7 linked regions of the Homo sapiens genome follow. The protein of the gene in region 1 purifies or fractionates together with the protein of each later gene. This does not show direct contact. Each region holds a gene or a part of one and is shown on either strand. Other genes may lie near its edges.

Evidence for each region.
Region 2: the proteins of DERL1 (region 1) and TRIM25 purify together in Homo sapiens (affinity purification with western blotting; 2 studies listed by BioGRID, with this or other methods). This does not show direct contact.
Region 3: the proteins of DERL1 (region 1) and TMEM129 purify together in Homo sapiens (affinity purification with western blotting; 3 studies listed by BioGRID). This does not show direct contact.
Region 4: the proteins of DERL1 (region 1) and EMC1 purify together in Homo sapiens (affinity purification with mass spectrometry; one large-scale study listed by BioGRID and IntAct). This does not show direct contact.
Region 5: the proteins of DERL1 (region 1) and PTGS2 purify together in Homo sapiens (affinity purification with western blotting; 2 studies listed by BioGRID). This does not show direct contact.
Region 6: the proteins of DERL1 (region 1) and ARL6IP5 purify together in Homo sapiens (affinity purification with mass spectrometry; one large-scale study listed by BioGRID and IntAct). This does not show direct contact.
Region 7: the proteins of DERL1 (region 1) and EPB41L3 purify together in Homo sapiens (affinity purification with mass spectrometry, with the first as the bait; one study listed by BioGRID). This does not show direct contact.

The regions. Positions count from the first base shown.
Region 1 is NC_000008.11:123,035,803-123,039,302, reverse strand, and holds part of DERL1 (derlin-1), read left to right. Parts: intron 1-3,500. UniProt on the Homo sapiens protein: Functional component of endoplasmic reticulum-associated degradation (ERAD) for misfolded lumenal proteins. Forms homotetramers which encircle a large channel traversing the endoplasmic reticulum (ER) membrane.
Region 2 is NC_000017.11:56,904,050-56,907,549, reverse strand, and holds part of TRIM25 (E3 ubiquitin/ISG15 ligase TRIM25), read left to right. Parts: intron 1-3,061; coding exon 3,062-3,295; intron 3,296-3,500.
Region 3 is NC_000004.12:1,715,452-1,718,323, reverse strand, and holds the end of TMEM129 (E3 ubiquitin-protein ligase TM129), read left to right. Parts: coding exon 1-172; intron 173-648; coding exon 649-808; intron 809-895; coding exon 896-1,144; 3' UTR 1,145-2,372; downstream 2,373-2,872.
Region 4 is NC_000001.11:19,217,843-19,220,524, forward strand, and holds part of EMC1 (ER membrane protein complex subunit 1 isoform 1 precursor), read right to left. Parts: intron 1,857-2,682; coding exon 1,727-1,856; intron 1,641-1,726; coding exon 1,461-1,640; 3' UTR 1-1,460. UniProt on the Homo sapiens protein: Part of the endoplasmic reticulum membrane protein complex (EMC) that enables the energy-independent insertion into endoplasmic reticulum membranes of newly synthesized membrane proteins.
Region 5 is NC_000001.11:186,674,358-186,677,423, reverse strand, and holds part of PTGS2 (prostaglandin G/H synthase 2 precursor), read left to right. Parts: intron 1-507; coding exon 508-591; intron 592-710; coding exon 711-957; intron 958-1,239; coding exon 1,240-1,526; intron 1,527-2,027; coding exon 2,028-2,175; intron 2,176-2,661; coding exon 2,662-3,066. UniProt on the Homo sapiens protein: Dual cyclooxygenase and peroxidase in the biosynthesis pathway of prostanoids, a class of C20 oxylipins mainly derived from arachidonate ((5Z,8Z,11Z,14Z)-eicosatetraenoate, AA, C20:4(n-6)), with a particular role in the inflammatory response.
Region 6 is NC_000003.12:69,104,265-69,106,592, forward strand, and holds the end of ARL6IP5 (PRA1 family protein 3), read left to right. Parts: intron 1-199; coding exon 200-372; 3' UTR 373-1,828; downstream 1,829-2,328. UniProt on the Homo sapiens protein: Regulates intracellular concentrations of taurine and glutamate. Negatively modulates SLC1A1/EAAC1 glutamate transport activity by decreasing its affinity for glutamate in a PKC activity-dependent manner.
Region 7 is NC_000018.10:5,418,498-5,421,997, reverse strand, and holds part of EPB41L3 (band 4.1-like protein 3), read left to right. Parts: intron 1-2,066; coding exon of another isoform or gene 2,067-2,120; coding exon 2,121-2,287; intron 2,288-3,500. UniProt on the Homo sapiens protein: Tumor suppressor that inhibits cell proliferation and promotes apoptosis. Modulates the activity of protein arginine N-methyltransferases, including PRMT3 and PRMT5.

The sequences.
Region 1 (3,500 bases):
AACAAAGGACTGACAGATTGCCCCGACTATTCTGTGGAGTGGACTTTGTGTGTGTATGGAGGGGGTTGAAGGAGGAAGGGCTAGGTGATGAGATCAGAGAGATGAATCCAGTTAGGAGGCCAGAGAGATGGTGGTTTGGATCAGTGTGGCTGTGAAGATAGAGAAAAGGGCATAGACTTGGCAGAGGGGACGAGATTACAGCCGAATGGATATAAAGAGTGAATGGGTGAAGCGAGCAGGACTGAAAGATACTACTGTTTTCACAGGAGCAGCTGAGTGGATGGCGGAGCCCTTGACTGAGATGGGGAATGGTCAGGGATACCTGGGTTGGGAGTGGGGGCTGGTATGGATGAAGAGTTAGGTTTTGGCTGTGCTAAGTCTTGAGATGCTTTTCAGGCATCCATGTGGCGAGGCCAAGGGAGCAGTTGGATATAAAAACATGACTCTGGAGTGCAGCTGGAATTGCATACTGTTCTGTGTTTATTACTTTACTAAATATTTGTTGGCTGAGAGAATGTTGTGTACTTTGTCCCTGGTGGCTTGTTGGGTAATGTGTGGTCATGGGGAGCAATGGTGGCATATTAATGTGTGAGAAGGACCTGGTCAAAACCGGCTTGTTGTCCCTGTTAGCAAAATCCTCACTTGTGTAGTGACACTAGTGACTACACGATGTAAATAAGCACATTGTAAAGAAGCAATGTAAATAAGCCTAACAGGCTGCGGGTGTATAAGGTTAAAAGTGGTGAACTGATTAAAAAGAGTAATCGTTCTTGTCACATCTTCCACAATTTTGTCATCTTCCCTGTATTATTTCTTCTCAGCTGCCAGCAGGAGGCAGGACAGTGTACTGCCCAGGTGTGAAAAGACCAACAGCTGTACCTTGTCTTTTCTTCCTGTTACTCTGATTCTTGCCTATTTTGGACACATGTAACTTTCAGACCCACCTGGAGGAACTCATTTGCAAATGAAGCAGTCAAGGAAAAACTGCATTTGAGAGGCTGCTGTGCACGGACAGTGTGCGGTGTGCTTTAGCAGAGTTCTGCTAGAAAGTTCCTTTTTTCCTTAGAAGCTGAATCTTTCACAACTTACAAAAATGGGGGAGTGATTGATTTAGAATTGTGTGCTCATGTTGGAAGTGACAAGTTATTTTTCCTCCTCAGCTCTAGATTCTTGTGTGTAGCTTGTTGGTTTAGAACGCTGAGGTTTATAATGTTATTTCTTTAGTTTGGATAGGTTGAAACAGGTGTGTGTTAAGACTCATTATACTGTTGTCTACGATTTCTCCCTATTCTGAGTCCCTCAGATTTATGTTCATCAATCAAATAGTTCACAATAATGAAATGTCTTCATATTAATCGTTGATTAACTACACAAGAGGTGGCAATTCCTGCTGCCTTTGTGTTTTCTAAGGTTATGTCTCCCAGGGCCGCCTGCATGGCTATATTTCTTCATTTCTTTGGACAAAATAACATCACCCTGTTACAACTTCCCTGAGGTCATGTCACTGAACTCTGACAGTCATCCTGAGATAAGTGTTACCCCCATTTTGTAGACAGCTTCAGTTTCAGTTTCTATTTCGTTGAGTCAAGGATAGTTCTAAGCTGTTTTGTTTAACTCCTTTGCATAATATCTACGAAAAAAATAAGTATGTAGCAAAACATTTTTGAAGGTGATTTCTTCCAAATCAATCATAGCAAATTGTTTTTCCTTTTCTATTCGAGTAGAAAGGCTGTTAGATTTCAAGTAGTTGAATCATGGTCTCAAGGCCTGGCTCAGTCCCCTGCTAGTTGTGTACCCTTAGGCAAGTTATTTATCCTGTCTGAGCCTCAATTTCTTTAGGATCTGAGGATAATATCATAGCATATTAACTTTGTTCTAAGACTCCATTGATTATACGATGCACCATCAATTTAATGCAACTTTTTTGGGGGACAGGGGAGTAGAAATTACATTCAACGAGTGTATTGATTGTAAGACACTCTAATTTCAGAAACACAGGAACGAGTACCTTCAAATTGAGGAAATATGTTATCTACTTCTTGCCTCTAGTATGTAGAACACATAGAAAAATGTTTGTAATACCCAATAAGTAGCCTGATAAATAAGCTATTCAAAAATAGTTGCCTCCTACGTGGTTGGTATGGGAAAAAAAATAGTTGCCAATTTTTATTTATCAGCCAATACTTTATGCCTTATTTCCTTCTCTCCTGGACAGTAAGATTCTAATTTTAATTAGTAATTGCAATTGAAATGTAACTGCTGGATGATTATTCTGCTTTGTCTTCTTAAAAGCATCCTGACTTGAAATGGGAAGATGTGAACTCTTGATTTCTCTAATTTATTTCCAGGAATAAGAAATGGTACCAACCAATTCTGTGACTCAGCCTTGTGCTTATATTTGCCAAGCTTTTGCTTATATATCACATTTAACCTGATGACAGCAACCTTAGGAGACTGATTTAAGGGTGTATTGGGGAAGAGAGACGTTTCAACATAGCAGGGAGGAGAATGAACTTGGACTATAGGCTGAGCATAGAAGTTCTATATCCATCAAGGTTTGGCTATAGAACTCTAGTGGCAAGTGTTCTGGTACGTAATTTAAGATCTTTCCTTAGTAGTCCTGTCCATGTTGAACAGTTCTGCTGTGTTCTGTAATAATGTTGCCCATTAGATTGTGGCTTTTTAAAAAACTTTTTATTGAGTTACAATATACAAGCAGGAAAGTGTATGTATAATAAGTTTATAGCTTGAGTTTTTAAAAATTCAAAACATGTATACAGCCAGCATTCAGATCAAGAAACAGAATCTCTAAAAGCTTTCTCCTGCTTCCTTCTGGTCACTGTCCTCTCTAAGGGTGACTATGCTCTTGATTTTTAATACCATGTATTGTTGTTGCCAGTTTTTATGCTTTTTATAGGTGGAATTATGAAGTATGTTCTCTTTTGTGTCTACCTGCTTTTATCAACATTATGAGAGTCACCCATATTGTTGCATGTGGTTATAGGTTGCTCATTATGGGACCATACCACAATTTATTTACTCATTCAGCTATTAATGGACCTTTTGGGCAGTTTCCAGTTTGGCTATTATGAATGGTGCTGCTATGAACATTCTAATACATGTCTTGGTGAACATATGTACTTCTTGGTGAGGAGAAATAGTAATTTCTGTTGCCTATATATCTAGGAGTAGATTTGATGGCTTCTAATTGCTCTTTTTAAAGATTAAGTGCCTTTCATTTGTTTAAATGAATGGAAGGGGCCTTTTCTTGCCTACCCGTTGTGTCTCCCCACCCAGCAAAAAAGGCCACAGTTTACTAAACTAGCATTTGTCACACAGGTGCTCATCATCTTTCTTGCTTGGTGACTGATATATACTTAAGTCCGAATCAAGTGATCCTTATTATTTCAGACAAATCCTCACTTTTCATACTTTAAAAAAAAAAACACTAGATTCTGGATGGCAAATTATTTCAGTAGCAGATTGTTTAGAAGATTTTA
Region 2 (3,500 bases), on another chromosome or scaffold:
CAGATTTTTACCCTTTTTCAGAGCTGCAGCACCAGTTTTATTGCAGCAGTTATGGTTTCATTAGATGAGATCTAGGTTAGAATACCAGCTCTGTCACATACTAGTTTATGTTGCTTTGGTCATGTTGACAGATCTTTGAACCTTCGTTTCCCAATTTGCACAATGGAATCACAAGTTCTTTCTGAAGATGACTGTGAGACAAATGAAAGAATGCACGTGAAAGTACCTGTATTTGTTAGAGGGCAGGCTATACTGCTGTAACAAAGATACACCAGAATTCAGAGGCTTAAATATGATTGAAGTTTATTTTACCAACTGACAGTCCAAACCCACACATGAGTAACCCAGACTAAGGGTTCATGTGATCATTCAGGGATTAAGGGTTCTCCCTTCTTATTACCCTACTATTCCACAAGGTATTGTCCCAGCCTCTTTGGTTGAAGCTGGGTTACCATTACATCTTTGTTCTAGCCTGTGACAAAGGGACAAAAAGGAGGTGGAGGACAACAAGCAATTTTCCTTTACACAAGTGACACAGTGTTGCACATATCACTCCTGGGCATGGGTCACTGGAAGGAGTTTTGTCACATCGCCTAGTCTAGCTGCAGGGGAGGCTGGGAAATGTAGTCTGAGTAGCCACACGCCCAGATGAAACTCCAGGGATGTTCTCTTACCAAAAGGAAAAAAGGGAAAATGAACACTGGGGGACACTTGTAGTCACATTAGAAGTTGCACAGTGAAAGATTGGCAAAGAAGGCTGGGCGCAATGGCTCACGCCTGTAATCCCAGCACTTTGGGAGGCCGAGACGCATGGATCACCTGAGGTCAGCAGTTCAAGACCAGCCTGGCCAACATGGCGAAACCCCATCTCTACTAAAAATACAAAAAATTAGCCGGGCGTGGTGGTGCATGCCTATAGTTCCAGCTACTCAGGAGGCTGAGGTAGGATAATTACTTGAACCCGGGAGGCAGAGGTTGCAGTGAGCCGAGGTCATGTCATTGCACTTCAGCCTGGGTGACAAGAGTGAAACTTCATCTCAAAAAAAAAAAATATTGGCGAAGAAATACTTGAATTCCTCTTTTCCAGTCTACTGTCCTTCTTGTGTGTTTTTCTCTTTGTTATGTTTGATTCTGAGCTATTGTCTTAGTCTGTTTTCTGCTGCTATAACGGAATACCACAGACTGGGTATTTGCAAAGAAGAGAAGTTTATTTGGCTCAAAGTTCTGGAGCCTGAGAGGTCCAAGAGCATGCTTCCAGCATCTGGTGAGGATCATCCATAGCGGAAGGATGGAAGGCAGGAGAGCGGGACAGGAAGAAGGAGGTCAAACCCTGTGATAAGAATATGAATCCATTCATGAGGGCAGAGCCCTCGTGATCTAATCACCTCAGTGGCAATTAAATCTCAGCATGAGCTTTGGAGGAGACATTCAAACCATAGCAGCTATTGAGGCTACCCAAGATGTGAAACAAAATTGCAGCTACTAAAGCAGTGCTGTCCAGCAGAAATACAGTAGGAGTGCAGATGTCATTTTAAGTTAATTTGAATAGTACATGAGATTTATTGTATTTTATTTATCTATCTTTTTTAGGACAGGTCTCACTCTATCACCCAGGCTGGAGTGCAGTGGAACAATCATAGCTCACTGCAGCTTTGAACTCCTGGGCTCAAGTAATCTTCCTGACTGAGCCTACTCCCCTTCACCACCCCCACTCTCCAGGAATACAGTCCATCTAATTTTTTTATTTTTATTTTTGTAGAGAAACAGTCTGTCTATGTTGCCCAGGCTGGTCTTGAACTCCTGGCCTCAAGCGATCCTCCTGCCTCGGTCTCCCAAGGTGCTGGGATTATGAGCATGAATCACTGCACTTGACTGAGATTAATTTTAATATTATAGTTTATTTAATTTGGTATATCTTAAATATTATTCTTTCAACATATCATCAATTTAAAAGTTTTAAGATATTTTACATTCCTTTTTTTGGTGTGAAACCCTTGAAAGCCAGTATGTATTTTACACTCATGGCAAGTCTCAGTTTGGACTAACCACATTTCAAGTGCTCAGTAGCCACATGTAGCAAGTGGCTATGTTATTGGAAAGTACAATCCTAGAGCATGATATTCTCTAGAAATTTTCCAGAGCTGCATCCTGACTTTTTGTTTTGTTTTATTTTATTTTATTTTTTTGAGATAGCGTCTCGCTGTGTCTCCCAGGCTGGAGTGCAGTGGCACGATCTCGGCTCACTGTAACCTCTGCCTCCTGGGTTCAAGCGATTCTCCTCCCTCAGCCTCCTGAGTAGCTGGGACTACAGGTGCGCGCTGCCACAACCAGCTAATTTTTGTATTTTTAGTAGAGATGGGGTTTCACCATGTTGGCCAGAATGGTCTTGATCTCTTGCTGACTTTTATTTTTAAAAATTGCCCATGAACCACCTTTAGCTTAAGAAATAAAATATCATCGATGCAGCCCCTCCCATCTGTTTCTCCCTTATTCTATCCCTCTTCCTCTCTTCCAGAAGTAACCACTCTCCTGAATTTATTTATTCATTCCCATGCGTTTCTTTGTGCATATAGCCATTCTGTTTGTTTCTAAGCTTTATTGAAAGAGCATCATATGGTGGATCTTCTTCTGCAAGTTGTTTTTCTCTCATGGAGATTTATCCAGGCATAGCTCCAGTTTATTAATTTTCATAACTGTTTAATATTCCATCCTATGAATAGCTCCCAGTCTTTGCTTCAAGTCTTCTTCTGATGGATGTTCAGGTTGATTCCAGGTTTTTGCTACTTCAGACAATGCTGCCTGTGAACATTCTTATGCATGTCTCAGGGGCAGGTGGCTGCAATTTTTTGTAGCACATATTCCTAGGACTGGAGTTGCCGAGTCATAGCCTATGAGCACCTCCAAATTTATTAGATATTGCCAAGTTGCTCCCCACAGTGGTTTGTTCTCCCACAAAGTACAGGTAAGAGTTCCTGGAACTCCACATCTCACCCATGCTTGGGGCTGCAGCCTTAGCACTTTTGCCCCTTTGACGGGCATCCTCTTACCTTGGCCCTCTCAGATGACTGCAAACAGAAAGGTGGAGCAGCTACAACAAGAATACACGGAAATGAAGGCTCTCTTGGACGCCTCAGAGACCACCTCGACAAGGAAGATAAAGGAAGAGGAGAAGAGGGTCAACAGCAAGTTTGACACCATTTATCAGATTCTCCTCAAGAAGAAGAGTGAGATCCAGACCTTGAAGGAGGAGATTGAACAGAGCCTGACCAAGAGGGATGAGTTCGAGTTTCTGGAGGTAGGTCGCCACAAGGCATTGTTGAATGTTTTTTTTTTTTTTTTGCCTGATGTCATGCTGTTGATGATAGGGCCCTCAAGGAGCGGGAGACTGGAAGAGGTCACTGGAAGCATCCCTGAGACACACGCTGTATTAGTTTTCTGAGCTGGGCAACAACTTACCACAAATGTAGGGGCTTCAAAAAACACATATTTATTCTCTCAGA
Region 3 (2,872 bases), on another chromosome or scaffold:
GGGTGATGAAGGTAACCACCTACCGAGTGCACGTGGCCCAGCAGCAGGACGTGCACCTGACTGTGACGGAGTCTCGGCAGCATGAGCTCTCGCCAGACTCGAACTTGCCCGTGCAGCTCCTCACCATCCGTGTGGCCAGCACCAACCCTGCTGTGCAGGCCTTTGACATCTGGTAAGAGTGTGGTGCCTGTGGGGCTGCGGAGGGCACATGGCAGGCCAGAGCCAGGCTCTGGTGCCACGACCCCTGGGAGGTGCTGGGTGTAGCTGGTGTGGACTCCAACACTCCTGGGCTTGTGTGACACCAGGCAAGGTGTCCACAAGACACCAGTCACTGAGCCCTCCCGCATAGCCCTCCCTCGGGTCCCCCTGCACTCTTGGCCTCCCCTTCCACTCCCTGGAGCCACCTCCCCCAGATTCTTGGGGAGCACTCAGGACAGTGCAGCCCTCAGGCTGGACAGCTGCCTTGCTCCTAGGTCCGTCCCGTGCCCAGGCTGGGCTGTCTGGCACTGGGTCCGTGGGCTCTGGCCTTAGGGCCATCTCTCCTGGTTGGTCCTGGTGCGACAGCTGCCCTGTCACTCCTTGGGGTGTAGCCTCCATCTTCCGCTCCCTTTGCCCTGCAGAGGGGCCCAGCAGCTCTCCTCCCTGCAGGCTGAACTCCACTGAGTACGGGGAGCTCTGCGAGAAGCTCCGGGCACCCATCCGCAGGGCAGCCCATGTGGTCATCCACCAGAGCCTGGGCGACCTGTTCCTGGAGACATTTGCCTCCCTGGTAGAGGTCAACCCGGCCTACTCAGTGCCCAGCAGCCAGGTGGGGGGCCTGGGCCAGGGCCGGGTGGATGGGTGGGTGCCCACGGGTGTCTGCCTGGGCTCCTGGTGACGCTCCACCTGCCCGCAGGAGCTGGAGGCCTGCATAGGCTGCATGCAGACACGTGCCAGCGTGAAGCTGGTGAAGACCTGCCAGGAGGCAGCCACAGGCGAGTGCCAGCAGTGTTACTGCCGCCCCATGTGGTGCCTCACCTGCATGGGCAAGTGGTTCGCCAGCCGCCAGGACCCCCTGCGCCCTGACACCTGGCTGGCCAGCCGCGTGCCCTGCCCCACCTGCCGCGCACGCTTCTGCATCCTGGATGTGTGCACCGTGCGCTGAGTGGGCTGGGGCCTTGAGGTGACTCTGTGTCTCCCCCCAAAGCCACAGGGCAGGGAAGGGGGTGGCTGGGCCTCCTGGCTGGCAAAGGGCTCTACTTAAAGCACATGATGTAGAGCAACTCGCCTCTGCCCTGGGTCTGCAGAAGGCTGAGGACTTTTGGTTAAAAGCAATCCTCATGAAAACACCCCACCCTGCTTGGCAGCCAGGGTACAAGTCCTGGGCACCTCCTCTTTGCCTCCCTCCTGCCCCTTTCCTGCTGGTGGGGGCAGATCCTGCACACACAGACACAGCGTCTGCCCCCGAGCCATTCCCTGGAGACCCTGGGTCTACCCCAGGTGGTCGTCATCTGGGCCATTTGCCTTACTTCTCTGGAGCATACCCACCCTCAGTTACGTGCCAGACCTGGACCGCATTCTCCTGCCCTGTCCTGGAGCTGGCCCCTGGCTGCCTGGAGGACCCTGGGTAGGTCCTGAGGGTGGGATGGAGAAGAGGGCACTGCTGTGGTGTGGGAGCAGTCCTGGGGCTTCCTGGTGGCTGTGACCAGTTGAGGGGCTGTTCCTGGGTGGGGTGGCAATGGGAGGACAGGTCAGAGCGCCCTCATTTGTGGGGCTGCCCCTCCGGGTTTCTCATCCTGTCCTTGGTGCCTTTTTCTGCCCAACAAGTCCAGGGAAGGCCGAGGTCTCAGACTCCTGGGTAGGGGTGGGGGTTTGAGTTGAGGACCAAAGTGCCATAGCGACATCCAGAACACAAGCCCACCAGGGGTCCAGCCCAGGCTACCCACTCCCCTAGGGTCTCCCAGGCTCAGAAGGGGATGCACGCCCCCTGTGGTCAAGCCTCTGGTGGGCGTCTTGCCCAGTTCCTGATGGTTCAAGGGGAGGGGGGATGTTGGCCAGGCCCCAGGGCACAGCCCTGACACAGGTGTGGCTACTGGAGGGGCCTTCATACCTGCGGCCCCAAAGCCCCTGGGCTTGGCTGTTTGAGGCAGAGGTGATGGACTCCGGGGGCCTGACACTTGGGATTTGGGAGGCTTCCTAGAGCGCTCAGCAGGTGAAGGCAGCAGGGGCCATGGCCGGGAGCCAGGCCTAGCTTTGAACTGAGTTTCAAGGGCTGCCAAAGAGGGGCAGTGGGTTGGGGTTGTTTTTACTACAAAATAAGTTACTTAGTTTTATAAAGACAAACCGATTGTAGCCAAATGACACCATATTTAATAAAATTTAGTCTGAAGTGATGTACTGTGTTTTGTGTTGCCCGATATTAAAACCAAACTTTTGTCATAGTTGGAGAATGGCCTGTGGGTATTGGAGAAGCCACCTTAGAGGTGGAATTGCGTGCGTGGCGTGCTTTGTTCAGAATAAGGAGGAAAAACCCATTGGTTGGGAGGCGGGTACAGTAGGAACCTTCCCCTCTGATTTCTGGTTAGGGACTCTGGGGTCTTGAGAACCCCTGACCCAGGGCCCTCTGCAGGAGCAGGGTGGGAGGGGCAGAGACACGTCCTGGGGGAAGTCACTGTGTGGTCGCCACTGCGGCTGCTTCCAGATGCAGGAACTGATGTGGGGACACATGGGTAGCCAAGGAGTGAGCAGCCTTTCCGGTTCACTTATGTTTGCAGCTGCGTCCTGTGAGGACACCAGGCTGTCTCTACTGACCTCACTGTGGGTCAGGGTGGCCCAGGAATTGCCAGCCGAGCACCTAGGGCAGCCAAGACAGCAGCCTGGGGTTCCCCACAGC
Region 4 (2,682 bases), on another chromosome or scaffold:
ATCAAACTGACAATTAATAAAATGGTTGTCATTTCCTCTTCCTTCTCTGCCATAATCTACCATCAGCATATGACCATAGAAAGATGACAAATTTTTAGATAACCTAACCAACCCATATATGATTAAACTGACCTTTCCTTACTAAAATAAAATACACTTACTCCATGTCTTCACTGCTTTTATCCCCTCTAATGTGAAAATAGCCTCAAAATGATCTTCTAAGACACAAAAGAGGACTTAAACAGTGTCATTTGTCACTTGCTTTATGCAAACATTCGAGTGTACCTCTTTCACCACAGGGCTAGAGATGGTCTACTCTGTACATACATTTCACAACAAAGAAAAATTCTGTCATTCCCCAACTCTATGACCAAGGAAAACTTTTAGGATTTCTTTAATTTGTAGCAGAGACACAGTGGCCTAGCCAATCGGCAGTGCTATACACACAGTATGCCAGTTTCCCACCCCTACCCTCTTTCTCCTTTTTTAAAGCTTCAAAGGTTAGATCAATAAAATTTAAAATTTCCTCATTTAAGGAGAAATATAATGACCCACATGTTAATTTATATTAAAAACTAAAAATAAATAATGGGGTTCTTAAACAAGGACATCTTTAACTAGGTTATGATTAGACCAGCCTGTGGGTGAAATGAGAGATTATCTCTTCTCCCTGGAAATGTCTTCAAGGCTCAGACAATTCAGTAGTTTTTAAAAGGCCCCAACTCACACATCTCAGGTGAAAAGTATAGGCAATGGGCAACAAACAAGACGCTAGTATGCACTTGGCTTCTGATAAATTGAAACAAAGATTTGGTGGCCCAGCCTAATAAATGACAGCACGAAACTAGAGGTTTAAAGTAAGTTTTGACATCACATATAGATCCCTCAACCCTAAGTTACTTTGGAGGGAAGCCATGAGAGGCTGGATCAGTCCTCAAGCCTCAGCTAAGGATGGATCCTATTTCTTCCCAGTGCAAAACACCAAATGTACCTATAAGGTGGAGTCGGCAAGGAGAGTTCCCCTCTTACTTTGAAGCAAGAGATGGAAAAAGTCAGAAAGATTTCTAGATAAAATTGAGAAACACAAAAGGCAAAGTAAAGTCAATTTAAACAGGCCTCACAAAAATCAGCCGGAATTCTTATTAAAAAAAACAAAACAGAACATTCATGGATGGGCAAAGAAAGGAAACAATGCAGACGCCTTTGGACTTCAAGAGAAAGCCCATCAGGAATCTCTGAGAGTGTCAGCTGAGAGAGTTCTGTCTCTCTCCATGTAGGATCCTTTCTGCATCATGTATATCCCAAAAGGAGTTCTGCGTGAAGGTCATCCATCTTCCCTACAGTTCTTAGCTGAGCACTGACACACACACATACTCCACCAATCCACCAAACTGCAGCTGTAGCTGCTTATCTGACCCACACTCCCCTGGCTCTCCACTTTTAGGCACAGTCTTTGTTCTTTATCGCCAGGCCCGATTCAGGAGCTTCACCTGTGCCAGTCTCTTAGTGATCATGGTGGCAAAAACCAGGCCAAAGAGGACGCTGCTGATTAACACGTAGTCATAGTCATCCTTCAGAACGTCAAACTGCTTGGATGGGTAGACTCGAGTTTGGTAAATGTCCAAACCATAGGCCACAACCTGGAAGGCAGATGGAATAAGAATTAGGAAAGAAACAACCAATGATCCACCAAGGGTGAAATAGGGCAGCTGTGGGCTCTACTCACCAAACAAGTGGACTCCAGACCCGAGGGAGCTGTGTAGATACCTCGCATTCGAGAAACTGTCTGGTTATAGTTGATGAATCGCTCTGCGTGTATCTGTACATCTGGAGAATACGGGATTAAGTTCTCCTCTCTGCAAAACACCAGCCGGGACAGGCAGTCTGAGCACTGCTGTAAAGGGATCTCTTGGCTGCCCTTCCTGAGTCCTGGGAGGTTTCCAGGCTACATATCTAGCCTCAAATCTCCTAGGAGGTCTGCTTGCATTAGGTAGTTAAAAATTTAGCAGCTGAATGTTAGGAAGGACTACAAGAAAGGAAGCTCTCTGGAGAGTAAGACTGAGATCTAGATTCCTACTTTGTTCTAAATCTGAAAAGAAAGAACATACAGATGACTGGCACTTCACACCACAAGAGGAAAGCCGACCATTTTAAAGCCAACACACTGAACCACTAAGCTAATTCCTGCTCTCCACTCCAGGGTGCCTCTCAGTCCCCATTTCTCTGAAACCTGATTATCATCCTGTGTCTTTTCCTAGCTTTAACCTCCTCTCTCTCATATACTTCTCCAAAACACACTCCTCTCCATTCCTCATGCCCCTAGGCAAAGAAATTCAGGATGGAGGTAAGAAAACCCGACAAGATGGTGGTTGTTAATACAACAATACCAACAGTGAATAAGATATTGGCTTGCCCACATGGTCTGGCCCGAATTACCTCAGTGATCTCATTTCCTAGCGTTGCCCTCCGCAAACTCACCAGACATGATCTCAGGGGATTTGCATTGCCTGTTCCCTCTGCCTAGAAAGTTCTTCCTCAGGTATCTACACAGCTAGCTCCTTCACCTCCTTCAGGCCTTCACTCAAAATGCACCTTCTCAAAGGGGCTTTCCCAGGCCACCTCTCAAATTACACCCACGCACATCCCCATCCCCACTTCCTAGCTCATTCCTGTTTTACTCTG
Region 5 (3,066 bases), on another chromosome or scaffold:
ACATACATATGTACAGGTATTGTTATTTGTAATTTGACCCTTGTATTTTTTAGTTTAAAATGTTAGTACTGCAAAATGTTATGTCCTCAAAAACACATTGTACCATGATTATGCCGCTTTCAATATTGTAAAGTGAGGTTTTTGCCGCATTATTATTTTTTGGATTTCAATAGCATAGCTTCAAGTTATTCGTAAGAATTTTTTATAAATAATACATTTTTATACTTTTTTATAATTACCATATCATCATAGTGAAGTATATAATATATATGATATAAGCTCAATATAGTATATTAATTCCGTTAAACACAAAGACATATCAGTTTGTAGCTTTGGTGGATAAACAAATTAATTTAGCAATTCATGGCTATGAAAAATGTATATTTTATTTAAAAATTTTAAAGAAAGCTAAATGATCAAATTATTTAATGATGAATTATATGATAGACACTTTATATAAGAAAAACTTCAACAGCAACAAATTAAAATTTTTTCATCATTTTCTAGGTGGACTTAAATCATATTTACGGTGAAACTCTGGCTAGACAGCGTAAACTGCGCCTTTTCAAGGATGGAAAAATGAAATATCAGGTATGCTTCCTTTGACTATTAAGACTTAGTTATTACCGCTTATACCCATATTTTAAAATCCCTAAAAATGTGTTCCTTAACTTTTTAACTGATGTTTATTTATTTATTTATTTTTTTAGATAATTGATGGAGAGATGTATCCTCCCACAGTCAAAGATACTCAGGCAGAGATGATCTACCCTCCTCAAGTCCCTGAGCATCTACGGTTTGCTGTGGGGCAGGAGGTCTTTGGTCTGGTGCCTGGTCTGATGATGTATGCCACAATCTGGCTGCGGGAACACAACAGAGTATGCGATGTGCTTAAACAGGAGCATCCTGAATGGGGTGATGAGCAGTTGTTCCAGACAAGCAGGCTAATACTGATAGGTAAACAAGAAAATGATTTATATAAAACCCTCTTCCCCAGGGAAAATTAGTGTGCTATCTTTGTTATGTTTTGAGTAAATGACAAGATGTGGTAAATGAAAACTCACACATTCTATATACATTAAATATGTAAGCATGACTGATAAAATAGCTATCTTTTGATACTGACAAGGAAGAAAACAGAAATGAAGGAATAGCAAATTTTAAAAATTGCATTCCAGTTGCTTGAAAGCTTGTGATCAGATGCAATAAATGTTTTTATTATTTATTTTGTGCAAATAGGAGAGACTATTAAGATTGTGATTGAAGATTATGTGCAACACTTGAGTGGCTATCACTTCAAACTGAAATTTGACCCAGAACTACTTTTCAACAAACAATTCCAGTACCAAAATCGTATTGCTGCTGAATTTAACACCCTCTATCACTGGCATCCCCTTCTGCCTGACACCTTTCAAATTCATGACCAGAAATACAACTATCAACAGTTTATCTACAACAACTCTATATTGCTGGAACATGGAATTACCCAGTTTGTTGAATCATTCACCAGGCAAATTGCTGGCAGGGTAAGCATTATTATTGAAAACCAAAACAAAAGACTAGTCAGTAACTTTAGAATTTCTGCCACGGAAATTATTTTTCTTAAACTTACTAAAAGAGTAGTTAGTTATATTGCTAGTAAAATTATTTTATTGATATAAGAAGCCTAACTTTGTTTGAAAAGTCTAAACTTTTAGTCTAGTCTACAGTTGTCAGACAAATAGCAAATTGTACCCCTACCTTAAAAATATTTTCAAAAAGTATCTATAATCTTATAGGAATAAATATTTTAGGCTTGAATACTAGTGTTATTTTTGAAATGTAAAAAGGCAAATTAGTTCTAGGCTGGTGTCCCATTGAATTTTAAGCAGAGCTCCTGTTGAAATGTAGGTAAGCATCTTTCCAGCAAATAAAAATTGTCTCCGCTGGGAGTTTCAGTTTTACCTGATTTGTACCTAAGGCAAGCTGAATACAAACAGTAAATATGCCTAAAATTCTTGTTTTACAACTAATTTTACTTTCCACAGGTTGCTGGTGGTAGGAATGTTCCACCCGCAGTACAGAAAGTATCACAGGCTTCCATTGACCAGAGCAGGCAGATGAAATACCAGTCTTTTAATGAGTACCGCAAACGCTTTATGCTGAAGCCCTATGAATCATTTGAAGAACTTACAGGTAAGAAACAGTTTCTAAACTTCTTCGTTTTTTGTTTGTTTGTTTGTTTTTGTTGTTTTTGGTTTTCTTTTCGAGATGGAGCCGCCCTCTGTCACCCAGGCTGGAGTGCAGTGGCGCCATCTCGGCTCACTGCAACCTCCGCCTCCTGGGTTCAAGCAATTCTCCTGCCTCAACTTCCTGAGTAGCTGGGACTACAGGCTCACGTCGCACGCATGGATAATTTTTTGTATTTTCAGTATAGACGGGGTTTCACCGTGTTAGCCAGGCTGGTCTCAAACTCCTGACCTAGTGATCCGCCGGCTTCGGCCTCCCGAAGTGCTGGGATTACAGGCGTGAGCCACCGCGCCTGGCCCCTAAACTTCTTAAAAGAATCAGGGGTCAAATGGAAACAGAGAAGTTGGCAGCAAATTGAGCAAAAGAATCAAACTGTTTTTTATTTTGTGAAGTTTGACATTGGTTGTATCTCTGTCTTCATCGCCTTCACAGGAGAAAAGGAAATGTCTGCAGAGTTGGAAGCACTCTATGGTGACATCGATGCTGTGGAGCTGTATCCTGCCCTTCTGGTAGAAAAGCCTCGGCCAGATGCCATCTTTGGTGAAACCATGGTAGAAGTTGGAGCACCATTCTCCTTGAAAGGACTTATGGGTAATGTTATATGTTCTCCTGCCTACTGGAAGCCAAGCACTTTTGGTGGAGAAGTGGGTTTTCAAATCATCAACACTGCCTCAATTCAGTCTCTCATCTGCAATAACGTGAAGGGCTGTCCCTTTACTTCATTCAGTGTTCCAGATCCAGAGCTCATTAAAACAGTCACCATCAATGCAAGTTCTTCCCGCTCCGGACTAGATGATATCAATCCCACAGTACTACTAAAAGAACGTTCGACTGAAC
Region 6 (2,328 bases), on another chromosome or scaffold:
AAAAAAACTATGTATGACTTGATGGAGAGCTTTACATAAAGTCCAAGGAGCCATTTGAAAGCTTGCATCAATTCGAGAAGCAGACTGGACTGTGGCTAACTAAGGCAGTTTACTAATAGTGTGAAGAGAGGGAGTGTAATATTGATATGGCAAAAGAGAATTGTTGCTTTGGTGTTAACCAGGTGTCCCTTCTCTGCAGTGATGTTTATCCATGCATCGTTGAGACTTCGGAACCTCAAGAACAAACTGGAGAATAAAATGGAAGGAATAGGTTTGAAGAGGACACCGATGGGCATTGTCCTGGATGCCCTAGAACAGCAGGAAGAAGGCATCAACAGACTCACTGACTATATCAGCAAAGTGAAGGAATAAACATAACTTACCTGAGCTAGGGTTGCAGCAGAAATTGAGTTGCAGCTTGCCCTTGTCCAGACCTATGTTCTGCTTGCGTTTTTGAAACAGGAGGTGCACGTACCACCCAATTATCTATGGCAGCATGCATGTATAGGCCGAACTATTATCAGCTCTGATGTTTCAGAGAGAAGACCTCAGAAACCGAAAGAAAACCACCACCCTCCTATTGTGTCTGAAGTTTCACGTGTGTTTATGAAATCTAATGGGAAATGGATCACACGATTTCTTTAAGGGAATTAAAAAAAATAAAAGAATTACGGCTTTTACAGCAACAATACGATTATCTTATAGGAAAAAAAAAATCATTGTAAAGTATCAAGACAATACGAGTAAATGAAAAGGCTGTTAAAGTAGATGACATCATGTGTTAGCCTGTTCCTAATCCCCTAGAATTGTAATGTGTGGGATATAAATTAGTTTTTATTATTCTCTTAAAAATCAAAGATGATCTCTATCACTTTGCCACCTGTTTGATGTGCAGTGGAAACTGGTTAAGCCAGTTGTTCATACTTCCTTTACAAATATAAAGATAGCTGTTTAGGATATTTTGTTACATTTTTGTAAATTTTTGAAATGCTAGTAATGTGTTTTCACCAGCAAGTATTTGTTGCAAACTTAATGTCATTTTCCTTAAGATGGTTACAGCTATGTAACCTGTATTATTCTGGACGGACTTATTAAAATACAAACAGACAAAAAATAAAACAAAACTTGAGTTCTATTTACCTTGCACATTTTTTGTTGTTACAGTGAAAAAAATGGTCCAAGAAAATGTTTGCCATTTTTGCATTGTTTCGTTTTTAACTGGAACATTTAGAAAGAAGGAAATGAATGTGCATTTTATTAATTCCTTAGGGGCACAAGGAGGACAATAATAGCTGATCTTTTGAAATTTGAAAAACGTCTTTAGATGACCAAGCAAAAAGACTTTAAAAAATGGTAATGAAAATGGAATGCAGCTACTGCAGCTAATAAAAAATTTTAGATAGCAATTGTTACAACCATATGCCTTTATAGCTAGACATTAGAATTATGATAGCATGAGTTTATACATTCTATTATTTTTCCTCCCTTTCTCATGTTTTTATAAATAGGTAATAAAAAATGTTTTGCCTGCCAATTGAATGATTTCGTAGCTGAAGTAGAAACATTTAGGTTTCTGTAGCATTAAATTGTGAAGACAACTGGAGTGGTACTTACTGAAGAAACTCTCTGTATGTCCTAGAATAAGAAGCAATGATGTGCTGCTTCTGATTTTTCTTGCATTTTAAATTCTCAGCCAACCTACAGCCATGATCTTTAGCACAGTGATATCACCATGACTTCACAGACATGGTCTAGAATCTGTACCCTTACCCACATATGAAGAATAAAATTGATTAAAGGTTTTTTTGGTGAGACTTTATTTAATGCACATCTGTCTTAAATACCTGAGAAACTTGGCGACGACCCTATAAACAGTGAAGCAAACACTTCAGCTGTTTCAAATACTGTTTAGTAAAGCTTGAATACTTTATTAACTTGCAGCCAGAATAAAACAATTCCAGTGGGATCCTATTTTTAAACCTGGCACGAGTTTTATATACATGTTAGCCCAGTTTTATATACATGTTAGCCCATTCCATTTTCTACAAGGTGAATTCTGCCGATAAAATCCAATAAATTTGGAGAAACTAATAAAAAAAAAGATACCTGTAATTACTAATGGCCAGTAGTCAATTCTGGAAGGGTAATAACAGAAAAATGTAACATATAAATGTTGTAAATTATGATTACATTTAAAAACAAGCTAAAATCTGCAACTAAGATCTTTAGGGTTGGGTGGTAGAAAAAGCATAATGTGAACTGCTTCACCTCTTTTGGCAAAACCTGTGTATTGAGGCCATAAGCTATGAAATTGGATCATCTTTTCTT
Region 7 (3,500 bases), on another chromosome or scaffold:
TTTTTCACATTTTTTTAAAATTTCAGTAGCTTTTGAGATACAAGCAGTCGGTTTTTGGCCACATGGCTGAATTGTATAGTAGTGAAGTCTGAGATTTTAGTGCACCTGTCACCTGAGTAGTGCACATTGTACCCAATATGTAGTTTTTTATCCGTCACCACCACCCCCGCCACTGTCTGCCTTCTGAGTCTCCAGTGTCCATTATATTACTCTGTGCCTTTGCATACCCATAGCTTAGCTCCCACTTATACATGAGAACGTATGGTATTTGGCTTTTCATTCCTCAGTTACTTCATGTAGAATAATGACCTTCAGCTCCATCCAAGTCACTTCAAAATACATGATTTCATTCATTTTTATGACTGAGTAGTATTCCATGATGTATATATACCACATTTTATATTCATAATTATTCTTACAGGCTTTTGTGAGCTAGCCTAGGAAGTTAATTGCCATTGTGTGTCTTCTAAGAGTTTCCAGAATACCGAACTTAGAGCCAGCCCTTTTGAATAAAATAATTACCAGGACTGTTTCGAGCTGAATTAAGATATTGAAATATCGATGTTAACATTGAAGCTTTTCTTTCTGGTTTATCCTATTGACTCTTGTTTCTCCTTTAGAGTGTCTCTATTACCTATTTCTATATGTTATCAGTATTTGAGGAACTTTGTAGAATCGCACTTTTTTTTTCCTGAATATCATCCACTTTGTTCAGTGACGTGCACCCCAGGGAACACATTTGTTGTGAATGTTGTTTTCCTTATGACCTTTAGTGTGATAATGACTGCTGAGAAGACAGAAGACAATTGTGAAATCAGTGTACTAATGTCATGCTGTCTCTTTCTCCCTGCCCAAAAGTGATGTTAGTATGTGTTGTCTCTCACTCCTTGCGGTCCTGCCAGCTCTAGTATGTTTTCTGCTGCTGTTGAGCTGGGTGGCACAGCTGCATGTTGCAACATAAACTGCTTTTTTGCAAGGTTGCATCTCACAGAGAATGGCCTAACTGGTCCATTAGGAAGTTGTGTCTCATATGAGCTTTTTCAACGGTGTAAAGAGATATAAAATGTCTTAGTGAAGATATTTTAGTGACATAGTTTAGCTATCGAAAGCATTTCAGAGAGGATTTCATTTCAGAATCCTTTCTTTTATTTACGTTTTTAAATTCCTAAAATAATAATGTAGATATTTTGTCTGTGATTAGTTACTGTGTATTTGAAAAGCAACATTTATAAGTTTTAATAAATTTTATATCTAAAACCTAAAATAATGAGTACCAACTTTTAAAACTTAATTAAGCATCTTTTCACTAAGACGTTTTAGCTGGGATGAAAGGCTCTGTCTTATTCTCTTGAGTTTGCATGTTTTGCATTTGCATGAATTTCATTTAGCAACATTCATTGTGTTTTCCCAAAATATTAGAGATGAGTAAATGTATATGCATATTATGGTAGTCTGTTTAAAATGCAGTAGAAATGAAAACATTTCTGTACTTTAGGTGAATGGAATTGCCATCTGATTTTTATAATCTCTACCAAGATGGTTAATATTTGTTATTACCCATGGAGCTTTTATACTGTAAGAGTGATAGACTTTTCAACATTAATAATAATAATATGAAAACCAATTCAGTGCTCCTTGGTGAATGGCACTTCCAAAGAGCCAAGTGTATTAGAGCAATTGTGTACTGCAAAGACTGCTGTTAGGTGTGGAATTGGCCACTACGAGACTGGTGCCAGTGCCAGCCAATGGTGATAATATGCCCAGCGGCAGCCTCGCCTCATGACCCTCCACTCACCTCCACACTTACACACATCCTCAGCAGAGAGTCTGAGGATAGATGAAATTCCAAGACATGAGCATTTCACGAATTTTAAAGCACTCATATAGGAAATACAGGAAGGTCATGCTCTCATGAAGGTCCCTGCAGCACTGATTTGTTTTTTCAAGGCAAACCTGGTATTTTGTGTTGGTATTTTTTTTTTCAGTAAAGATATAGTTGGTATTGTTCATGTGTCTTCTGACCTAACTATTTTGGATTTTATTTCTTTAATTGTATTTGCTTTTAGCATCAGTGAATGAAAACCATGAAATATACATGAAGGATTCTATGTCTGCTGCAGAGGTTGGTACTGGCCAGTACGCCACAACAAAAGGCATCTCTCAGACCAACTTGATCACCACTGTGACTCCGGAGAAGAAGGCTGAGGAGGAGCGGGACGAGGAAGAGGACAAACGGAGGAAGGGGGAAGAAGTCACGCCCATCTCGGCCATCCGGCACGAGGGAAAGGTATAGCTCCCAGACTGCCTGCAAGAGCTTGCTCCAGCTTTTAAGAATGACTAAATGATGCTGAGGCTGTAAACCAGGAATGTGCTCAGATTTAGGATAAATCATATGTCAGCACTGGTCACATTCATATGTCAATTTTTAAATTATGATTGCTGTTTCAACATTTTTTCTCTGAAAGGTTCATTCATAGCTCTTTGAAAATTTTTATTTTAATAACTTGTGTGCTATGTAAGACTTTCAATAGCTGTCCTGTATGTGTATCTTAAAAATACTTTTGGTGGCGTATTACACTTTTCTGTTTGGGCTCACATTTCAGAACTGTCACTAAAGCTGTTTTCTTTGTTTCTGGCCCCATTCTCCTACCCAAGTACAGCATATTTTTCTAGATATACAATTATCATATTGCCATTCTTCTGACTGTAAGTACATGGAGTGACCACAGCCTACATATTTATACTTACGCCTAATCAGCAGAGTAGTGACTGGCCATGTTTTGAAAAGGGATCTTAAGGCAGAAAGTTGCAACAGGAGATAAAAAGGGAATTTGGCAGCAGCTTCTTCTTTCAGTGTTGAATTCATTAAACTTTGTAACATTGTTTCACCCCAAATTAAATATCTTTTTTAACACCATTTTTAAACACTATGTTTTTTTCTGGTGATCCAGCACTACAAAGCAACTTTTCAGAAAAATAATTTAAAAGTCAAAAAACCCTTCAGGAGGCTTATACCTAATAATAAGGGAAAAACAGAGTGGCTCCTGGCCTGTACAGAGCATAGAGTAAGAGGAAATAGCAGAATGAAAATGCTCATAATAACCCATGGGTTATCCTAAAATTTGAGTAAATTTGATTCACGAGTGATCTTTTGTACATGGGCTCTTCAAATAGAGATGGAGAATCACTACCCCGAATTCTATGGAAAGTGTTCCTTTTGATGAGAATTTAGCAGTGACATCTTAACATAGACAAATAATTTTTGTAGTTATGCTAAAATATTACAAATGGCCCAATCCATCATCTTTTATTTTTTGGGATAAGATTATTTATTTGGCAAACACAAAATTAAGCAGAGAGTAGGAAATAATGGCAGGGATATTTCGATAACTTTTGCTGTTAAAATGTGCTTTGTTCTAAATTTTGTTTTTACACTCTTCCTGTCTGTTCAGTCAAGGAAGGCTTTAAAGGGGACAGAAAAGAATATAATCCACCCAAAA